2 separate regions of the Homo sapiens genome follow, and region 1 is linked to region 2. Evidence: fine-mapped expression QTL. A gene starts in region 2. The other region holds a variant in brackets. All regions are shown on one strand. Distances are between the middles of the regions. Region 1 overlaps ZNF84 (zinc finger protein 84). Region 2 holds the start of ZNF84 (zinc finger protein 84).

What was found.
Region 1: its variant is fine-mapped to the expression of ZNF84 in whole blood (TOPMed, PIP above 0.99). The same link has a PIP of 0.9 or more in B cells, breast, gastroesophageal junction, monocytes after interferon gamma, sun-exposed skin and thyroid.

The regions. Positions count from the first base shown.
Region 1 is chr12:133,060,237-133,065,617 of GRCh38, forward strand. ZNF84 (zinc finger protein 84) reads left to right here. Exons shown (of 5, transcript NM_001289971.2): 5 at 1-3,063. Among named protein-coding and RNA genes, the nearest start is that of ZNF140, 18 kb to the right of the region's middle. The variant G/A (reference allele first, on the strand shown) is at 2,837.
Region 2 is chr12:133,034,253-133,039,633 of GRCh38, forward strand. ZNF84 (zinc finger protein 84) reads left to right here and starts at 3,257. Exons shown (of 5, transcript NM_001289971.2): 1 at 3,257-3,293. It overlaps ZNF84-DT (ZNF84 divergent transcript), which reads right to left and starts at 2,970. Exons shown (of 3, transcript NR_110091.1): 1 at 2,517-2,970. RefSeq lists an enhancer at 2,874-2,963 and a silencer at 3,184-3,363.

The DNA.
Region 1 (5,381 bases), 26 kb after region 2:
CTTGTAAAAATTAGATGGATAAATGAATTATTAAAAAATCACATTTCTGAAGATGTAAAGTATTAGGGAATTTTGTGCTGGAAAAACATTTTTGACATTCAAGGATGCCTATTTTATCTTCTAGCAAATTTCTGTGGTCCCTGGAAAAGTACAGATGATCCTGGACTTACAGTGGGGTTACCTCCCAATAAACCCATTGTAAGTTGAAAACATTGTAAGTCAAAAATGCATTTAATACACCCAACTTACCAAACATCATAGCTTAGCGTAGCCTACCTTAAACATTCTCAGAACACATTCTAATGCATCATCTATTTTATAAAAAGGTGTTGAATATCTGATGTAATTATTGAATACTGAAGGTGAAAAATAGTAGTGTATGGATACCATTGTAATGTTGAGAAACTGTAAGTCACATCCTCTTAAGTCAGGAACTATCTGTATAAGGAAACAAGATTTCCATTTTATCATTTGAAATGTATTTGACTTTGTTTCACTAGTTGCATTATCCCCATGGAAAACTTCACATTGAGAACTTACCATTATATATTTCCATAAAAATGCATGAACCATCCCTTAGCTAAGTAAGGATTTTGTAATGTTCTCTCAATAATGTTGCTTGGCAAAGTTAATATTTTTTGTATGCTGATGAAATTTAGAAAAGTCCAATATTGAGCTTGATTGCAAACTTAGAAAAACTCAAGACTTCTCCTTTTATGTTCAAATTGTTGTATCAGTATGGTATTTTGCACCTTTACCTTAAACAATATTTTCTCCTTTAATTATTGATTTTGCAACATTTTGGGAAAGTTGGAATTTTAAATAAATGAATAATTTTCTAAACCAGAATACCAGTTCAACAGCCAAATAATTCTGTCTTTCCATGCTGTAATTTTAAAGCATTTAATTTTCCAACTTTTTGTTCATACTCAAGTGTATGAACTTCCTGGCTGGGCACAGTGGCTCATGCCTGTAATCCCAGCACTTTGGGAGGCTGAGGACCTCAAGTGGAGACCTCAAGTGGATCACTTGAGGTCAGGAGTTGAAGACCAGCATGTTCATGGCCAACATGGCAAAACCCTGTCTTAAATTAGCCGGGCATGGTTGTGCGTGCCTGTAATCCCAGTTACTCAGGAGGCTGAGGCAGGAGAATCACTTGAACCTGAGAGGCAGAGGTTGCAGTGAGCCAAGATTGTGCAGCCTGGGCGACAGAGCGAGCCTCTGTCAAAAAAAGAAAAGAAAAAGAACTTCCTACTTTTTAATATCTCAAATTCATTTTACTAGACGTGGGAGACCAACTAATGCAAATGAACAGTTACAGGGTGATGTTGTACTTTGTGATTTTTGCCCTATTTTTTCTTTCCATCTATCACCATTCTCTTTCCAATCCCAGAGATTGATTTATTAGGTCTTGGAAATTCTAGATTATTCCATTAACTATTAAGCAGTTAAACCTGATACTTCCTACACTAGATAATGGAACTTCAACATTAGCCTATTGATTGCCCAAGAACAAACATTTTTTTCTAAATGTCAGGTGTTATGGGGAGGATTGATGCTGACAGCAGAGGTCTAGTTAAAAACTGATGCAGAGGTTCAAATACGTTGTGCAGTAATCACTAGAACTCACCTTCTAAAGTGTCATGAGAGCTCTGATTCTGCAATTAGAGATTTTTTAATGTGTTTTTGAAATTACCTTGTAAACCACAAATCTGTGTCTCTGCATTGCCCCTTATTGTTTCCTACCACAAATTCTACATCAAGAAGAAAGTTTTAAAGTTAGACTGGATTTATTTGTGATTTTATGGAGCACAATAAGGTACATTGAGATAGCATACTAAAGGAGGCCAAATACAGGAAGCATCATCTTTTCTTATTCTCTTACTGCCTGGATTTTCCCACTGACCTGGAATTGTGCACAGTTCTACAAAGGACAATTGACATTGTTTTCCTTTTACTAAGTAGTGGGTTTTCCTTAAGGTCCAGACTGAATTTTGAGACCTGTATCAGGATTGCCTTCTGTGTGACTTTTTCTTGCAGGATCTGACATCATTACCTATGGGTCCATATATTTGTGATACTTTGGTTTCGGGAACATCACTTTTAGAATGTTGACATAAAATGCACCCACAGAATGCCGTATTTATCAAAAGTAACTTTCTAGCAAAATCTACAGCAGTAGGCATTTGGAATCTGCATTTGAGACCTCTGCAGTCATTTGGTCATTCCAGCAATCTATGTCCAGGTTGTCAATTTCAGAGGTCTTATTAGTCTATACAGGTACCAATGAGCTTTCAGATGTTCAACACCTACCCCTGGCCTAACTGCTGATAACCAACCATAACCCTTGCAGATGCATGCATGTTTTCTGCACCTTGCTATCATTTTTCAGTCCATTTTTCACATGTATACATAGTGATTATTTTTAAATGCAACCCTGATTTCACATGCCTCATGTTGAAATATCGTGTGGCTTATTGTGGACTTAAAGTGTAACATTCTCCTTATGGTATGTAAGGACTTTTGTATAAACCAATGCCTATCTATCTATCATTTCTGAAAACTTTTTCCTCCTATGCAATATTTTCTGGCCTCTGTGAACAACTTGTAGTTCCTTGAGATTTCTATTATCACTTATGTTTTTGCAAATCTGCAATTGAAATGCCCTTGTTCCTTGTTAATGCCTATTGAATCTATATGAACCTGTACGTGTGTTTCTCACTGTGATAATATAATCATTGCATGTTTTATCTTTCCCACTAGAAAGCTTCTAGAAAGCTAGTACTATCTTTTTTGTCTGTGTAATTTTTGCATCACAAGCTATATTTAAATGTGG[G/A]TGCAGTGAGTGGCTGTTTTCTGCCACATGGAGAAACATGGTCTGCAGTGAGAGAGAAGAATGAAGCCATGATGAAAGCAAAATCAAGAAAGAGTCCCGATTGTGTTCCAGTACCTGGTTCTTCTGGTCTTCATGTTCAGGTCCACCTCTGCCCTTTTCATGTCTTGATTGTTGAATTCTTCTGTGAGATACTCCAAATATCCTAATAAATTCTCATGTTTGCTTCATCTGGCTCAAGTTGTGTTTGTTACAACCCAAATATTTCTAACAGAGGAAATCAGGCTATGTCGTAACTTGTTCTCTGGAAGTGGTTACTGAGAAGTTTGGGTGCAAGATGTCTACTGAGGATCAACAGCTGTGAAATGATTGAAGAAGAAGAAAGAAAACATTGAGCTGAGGAAGAAGTCAATTTGCACTGCATTGGAGCCAGCAGGGAACTCTGGAACATGTACTGCCCATTGGAGTGCCTCGTGTTGAACCAAGACGGCCAGGCCCTTACAACCCTGCATTGCTCACCCCATCACCCAGACTCAGGCTGCCCTGGGAAGGAAGCAGCCTTAGGTGAAGCAGCTCTTTTCTTCAGTGATGCTGCTGATTTCTTAGGTGAAGCAGCTCATTTCAGCTGAGGCCAGCTTCAAAAGTGGAGGTTCTCTGCTGATGACTCTCCCTGCCCTGGGTAAGTCCCTCCTTGAAGAGAGATCTGAGTCATAATGCATGTTTCTGATCACACAGTCCATCCTTCCCACCACTTAGATCCCCTTGTCTATGTTACATTTGGGAAGCTGCTGCTCTAGGATTCTGGTGGGGCTCTCTCTGAAGAGACACTAAGAAAAGGAAGATTCATAGGACAAACCACAGCCCCTAATGTTGCAGTTGCTTTCTGTATTAGTCACTGTAGATTCTCATCACACCCTGTTAGCACCTCTGTGGACATAAGTGGCTTATGTGGTAGCTTGTCCCAGACCCTTATTCCTGAGGGGGTCAGAGCCCTGGCCACCATGTCCTTTTCAGATCCAAGTTGCTGTATTTGTCCACTTACATCACAATGGGGCAAGGAAGTTCAAAGAGGCACCTAGGAGGGCCACCTGAGTTCCACTCCTTTTTTCTCCTGCCCTGTTGTGTAACAGCAGCCATACCTGCTGATGATCAGTGTCAATGCCCCAGCAAAGAGTGGCTTTTCTGGCATGCTGGTCCTTGGACACAAGGGTACAAAGTTCCATGCTGTATCTGTAGTTTATAATTTAGAACACTCTGTCCTCAGGTGGAAAGTGCCCCCTCTGGGGCTAATCCTTGATGTTTGACCTTTATACGGTGCTGTGTTTTCAAAGAGAAAGAACACATGGGTTTGGGTACTGCAGTGTGGAAGCAGGAAGATCACAGATGATCCTCTAGGGGGACCTTGTGCTTCCCATAACCACAGCTCTGAGGTTGAGAGAGTTAATATTGCTCTGGGAGCAAAACTAGTTATATCATTGTCCATTTTGTGTACATTGTTTTTCTTTCTTTTCTTTTTTTTTTTTTTTTTGAGGCAGAGTCTCACTCTGTCGCCCAGGCGGGAGTGTGGTGGCACGATCTCGGCTCACTGCAAGCTCCGCCTCCCAGGTTCACGCCATTCTCCTGCCTCAGCCTCCCGAGTAGCTGGGACTACAGGCACCTGCCACCATGCCCAGCTAATTTTTTGTATTTTTAGTACAGATGGGGTTTCACCATGTTAGCCAGGATGGTCTCGATCTCCTGACCTCGTGATCTGCCTGCCTCAGCCTCCCAAAGTGCTGGGATTACAGGCATGAGCCACTGTGCCCGGCCGTGTATGTTGTTCATTTCATTGCCCACATCATTTCACTTGATATGAATGCAAACATTTATGCTTTTTTCTGAATCGGGATATTAAAATGCATTTACTGGATCAGTGGCCATATACCATGTATCTGAGGCTGTATTAATCTCTTCTAGTGGAAATATCACATCTGGCCTAATGGCTGTGATCAGGACTACTACTTAGTTGAGCTTGAAGTTGAATTGCAGTTATGAGTAGTTTTTACTAGAGATATGATGGGAACCATCACTCCTAAATCTTTTATATCCTGAAGGGTGTCTCTAATCTCTACTATCCCCCCAGAGATTGTTCTTATTTACTATCTTGGGTGGATTGTAGTTTGAGGCTTCCACGTGGCCTTTCCTCATGCAATAGTTTTTTTTTCCTGCAAGCAAGGACCTAATAACCACTTGTGATACAGCAGATGTGAGCTGCTTTTTGTGCAGCCAAAGGCCCTCTAACTTTCACAACTGCAATCAATTGTCTATTACTTGTCCTCAACTGTTTGTTATCTTTATGTAGAGCATCAGTGGCTTTCAGCAGTAGCCACTGTATTAGTCCGTTCTCATACTGCTATAAAGAAATACCACAGACTGGGTAATTTATAAAGAAAAAGAGGTTTAATGAACTCACAGTTTCACATGGCTGGGAAGTCCTCACAATGAAGGAGGAGCAAAGACACGTCTTACATGGTGACAGGCAGGAGAGCGTGTACAGAGGAACTGCCCG
Region 2 (5,381 bases):
ACAATCAAGCCAGTGAATGTATCCATCACCTCACATAGTTACCCTTTAGGTATGTGTGATTAGGGTATTTCAGGCTTACTCTAAGTGAATTTCAAGCGTACAACATATTATTAACTGTCGTCACCATGCTGTCCATTAGGTCTCCAGAATTTATTCATGTTATAACTGCAAGTTTGTTCTCTTTTTAAAACATTTGACCAACATCTCCTCATTTCCCCTACTTGCCACCTGACCTCTGGTAACCACTCTTCCACTGTTTCTATGAGTTCGACTTTTTAAGATTCCACATCTACGTGAGATCGTGTAGTATCTTCTTTCTGTATCCGTGTATTTCTATGTGTATTTCACTTTGCATAATGTCCTCCAGGCTCATCCATGTTGTAGTAAATCACAGAATTTTCTCCTTTTTTGAGGCCAAGTAATATTCTATTGTGTACGTATACTACATTTTCTTTATCTTTTGATAGATGCTTAGGTTGTTTCTACATCTTCACTATTGTGAATAATGCTGCAATGAACAGGGGAGTGCAGATATCGCTGAGATATCTTTTAATTTTATTTATTTTGGATATATACTGCTATGATTTGAATGTCTATGCCCTCTGAAAATTACGTTGCAACTAACCCCCATTGTAACAGTGTTAGGAGAGTGGGAAAGCTGCCTATGGCAATTGAGAGGTGGGACCTTTGGGAGGTAACTAGGATTAGATGAGCTCATGAGGGTGGGCATTAGTGGCTTTATAGGAAGAGAAAGAGAGAAATGGGCTCGGCTGCTTGATCCCCCTTCACAGTGTGCACCCTGGACTGACCTGGGGCTCTGCAGAGAGTCCTGCTAGCAAGGAAGTCCTTACCAGAAGTGTCCCTCAACCTTGGACTTCCCAGTCTCCAGAACTGTAAGAAATAAATTCATTTTCTTTATAAATTATTCAGTGTCAGGTATTCAGTTACAGCAATAGAAAATAAACTAAGACAGAAAATTGGTACTGAGGAGTGGGGCTGTTGCTAATAATAAATCCTGAAAATGTGGAAGTGGCTTTGGAACTGGGTAATGGGCAGAGTTTGGAAGAGTCTGGAGGAGCAGGTTAGAAAAGGCCTAGATTCTGGTGAGGGATTGTCTCAAAAAAAAAAAAAAAGAAGAAGAAGAAGTTGTGAAACCATGCCCCCAAATAGTTAAAGAAACCAGTGACTAACGAATTTTTTTTTTTTGAGATGGAGTCTCGCTCTTGTCGCCCAGGCTGGAGTGCAGTGGCGCGATGTCGGCTCGCTGCAATCTCCACCTCCCAGGTTCAAGCGATTCTCCTGCCTCAGCCTCCCGAGGAGCTGGGATTACAGGTGTGCACCACCACGCCCAGCTAATTTTTGTATTTTTAGTAGAGACAGGGTTTCACCATGTTGGCCAGGCTGGTCTCGAACTCCTGACCTCAGGTGATCTGCCCGCCTCGGCCTCCCAAAGTGCTAGGATTATAGGCGTGAGCCACCGCGTCCGGCTAACAGAAATTCTTGAGCTTACAGGATGGCAGATAAGAAACAGTTTGCTGAAACTCCGTTTGTAATATAATACAACTGGCTGAAATCAGTTGAAACCAATATAACCAAACGGAGTCCATGCAGAATGAGCTTGCTGATGTCGCAGCCTGAATTTCCACTGCACTTTTCACACTAACTCTACCTTAATTTGCACATGGGACCCAAGAAGAGGCTTGAAGAGACAACTGCACATGGTCGGGGACTTTCCAGACTTCCTTTTTCCTTCACCATTCACCTGTGAATCCCAGAATCCACCCTCTAAACCTTTTTTCACAATAGTGCTGCCTTAAGGGCAGCACAGAGAGATAGATTTGAACTAAACTCCTGTCACTTTGTTGGTCAACTCGCAATTAAGCTTTTCTTTTCTCAAACGCCTGGTGCCATAGTATTGGCTTCTGTGCACATCGGGCAATGAGGTCTTTTGCGTAGCAGTATTTGGATATCCGGTTTCCTCACGCTATTTATTGAAGCGACTGTCCTTTCCCCATCGTGTATTCTTGACACAAGATTAGTTGACTTGCCTAAGATTAGTTGACTGTATATGCATGGGGTTATTTCTGGTTTTTCTACGCTGTTCCACATTGGTCCATGCGTCTGTTTTTATGCTAGTACTTCACTGGTGAGTTCTACCTCTGGGAATAAATATAAGAATTCTCTAATCACTGGATGTTTGAAGCAATTCACTAAGCAACTCATTATGATGCTTTCTGGCAAAGGATCTCTGAATTTGTCTTCAAATTGTGGATAAAATTGGGTCAAATTTGGCCCATGTTGTCCTGGAGAATCATTTGTGTCACAAATTATCAAATTTATTAGTATAGAGCGGATTTTCATTCAATTTCCTATGTGTCTATGGTTATTTCTCTTTTTTCATCTCTCTCCTCCATCTCCCCGGCCCCATCTTGCTGTCATAAGCATCGTGACTTACCTATAATTCTCCCTACGACTCCAGTTATGGATCAACTTTACTTTTTTCTGTTAATTCTTACCTTCTTTCCATAAATATATTTAAATTTTTTCTGGTTTCCTCAACTGAAGTCAAACCAATTGAGTATTGGTGGGCCGGGCGCGGTGGCTCACGCCTGTAATCCTAGCACTTTGGGAGGCCAAGGCGGGCGGATTGCCTGAGCTCAGGAGTTCGCGACCAGCCTGGGCAACACGGTGACTCCCCGTCTCTACTAAAATACAAAAAAATTAGCCGGGCGTGGCGGCGGGCGCCTGTAGTCCCAGCTACTCGGGAGGCTGAGGCAGAAGAATGGCGTCAACCCGGGAGGCGGAGTTTGCAGTGAGCCGAGATCACGCCACTGCACTCCAGCCTGGGTGACAGAGCGAGACGCCGTCTCAAGAAAATATATATATATATTGGTGGATTCGGTTTCCCTTTATGTTTCTCAGAAAACCGTGTGAGCCCGTTTGGAGTCACTCCGTCTCCAAGCGACAGGCACTTCCGGACGCGGGGCACTGTGGGAAGTTGAGTTCGCGGGGCTCCTTCCTTCGCGCATGCGCACATGCACTCTTGGTAATGCTTGCAGGTGGCCCGTTCTTCCTCTTTGTCCTTCGCTGCCACGTGAGAGGGGAGTGTACGCGTGTGCGCGCGTGCGAGTGTGCGCGTGTGCAGTCCCCGACTCGTCCCGGCCCGTTCGGAGCCGCCCGGGAGCGCACAAAGGCCGACGGTTTGGGCGCGTGCGCGGGACACGGGGGACGGGCGGTGTCACGTGATCGCGAGGCCGCGGGCGCGCGGGCGCGACTCGGCGGCGGCGTCTTTTGTGAGTTCAGTGAGTTTATTGCGGGCCCGGCGCTGGGGGCTCCGGGAATGGCGGGGGAGGCGCGCGGGAGTGGCCGCGGGGAGCTTCGGCTTCAAGGCCCTGGGCGTCCGCGCGCGGATGCGGGTCTGGGGCGGGTTGGGGCTGGGCCGGGTCGTGAAGATGCCGTGGGCCGCGGAGCTGCGCGGATTCTGGGCTGTGGGGCGGGCACGGCCTTTCCGGAGGCGCCGCTCCTGGGCGTCCTTTCAGGCGGGCGTGGAGGCGCCAGCCTCGGGCGCGTTTAGCCTCGGGCGCGTTTAGCCTCGACCTCGGGCCAGCCCGCTTGCCGCGCCGTGGCCCTAAGGAGCGGCTGCCCTGCTGGACCGCATCCACCAGCAGCCTGGCTCTGCCGCTATCGAAGGAGGCTTTTAAAGCGCTGGGGTTACAGGTGTGAGCCACCATTCCTGGCCGTGTATTTTTTAATGGTTATATTTATTGACTGTTTTAAATTTTTTAAGTGACTTTTGCTTTTGGTATGGTGTAGCGAAATCTCCCCTCAAATTATACATATATTCATTCACCTGTGGTTTTTTTTTGTAGACATTCTTAGGGTTTCCATTATTTTAAAATTTAACCCACTGAAAGTAGTTGTATGAAATAGCTACGTTTATTTTCTTTCAAATATTCTTGTATTCATTAAATAATTTAATTTTACTGATGGCTTTGAAATGCTACATTTATTGCATGCTGACTCTTGCATATTTAGACAGTTTGCTTTTTTTCATCTGTATAACTTCTCTGGAGCCAGTGTCAAATGTTATAATGATTATAATTTGTATGTATTACAGTGGGCCTGTTCACACTCATTATTTTGTATTTCCAAAAGCATCCAGGCCCGGTGTGGTAGGGCATGCCTGTAGCCCCAGCTACTCTGTAGGTTGAGGTAGGAGGATCACTTGAGCCCAGGAGTTCAGGGCTGCAGTGAGCTATGGTTATGCCATTGCACTTCAGCCTGGACAACACAGTAAGACCCTGTCAAAAAAAAAAAAAAAGTGTCCGAATTGTTCTTGAACCTTTTTTCTTACACATAAACTTTAGAATTTTGAGATTCTGATTGGAGTCGATGAGTTATATAAATCATTTGAGGTCAAATTATCTTCACAATCTGAAGTCTTCCTATCCCAGAATAAAATCGAATTATAAATTTCTTTAATTCTATTTTTATAGTTCTCATTGGTGTTTTTAGTATGCTTCATATGGGTCTTGATATTCCTACATATTTTATGTATTTTGTCAATTATGAGTCGGATTTTATTTTTTTGTTATTTTATGTGAGTTGTTTATATCTTACAGAAATAAGGTTATTGACCTGGAAAGATGTTCTTCACATAATGGGAAAAAAACAAAAACAGCTTTTAAATATGACCATATGCTTCCATTGTATGAAAAATATCACAATAGTTTCCATCATCCTAAGAATGGTTACCTGTGGTGAGATCATAGATAATAGTTCTTATTTAGCTTGTGTATGTTTTTTATATTTTGCCATCATATATTACTTTTATAATAATAATTATAGCTAGTATATGTTTCGTATGACTGTGTGCCAGCTTTTGTTCTAAGATTTATGTATTATCACAATTTAAGGTATAAAGGAGTCATTTCTTGTATAACTGGGAGAAACTGCTGTGTGTTTCTGAGTTGGCACTGAAGTTTGAACCACAAAAAGGCATGAAAAAGAAAGTGCTGCTTGTTAGTGTGATACAGTTGAGGCAGGGCGTCCTTCATTTATATTTTTGTGGGAATTAGTGACTGAATGTGTGCATGGGAATAGGAGCTGACTCCAGGATTTATGTTGTGTGTGTTTGTGCATGTAGATATGCACAAATGACAATATGACTTTAGTATTCATGCTTTGAACATAGCAGGATAGAGAATTAACATTTGAATTTTGCTACTTACTAAATGTGCAATCACAGGCACATTTTACAATCACTCATTGTCCCAGTTTTCTCTCTGTAAAATGGAGATTATGTTAAACGCCTTATAGGGTTGTGCATGAGTTAAATTTAAAATGCTTAGTATATTGTCTCACATACAGAAAGCACTGGA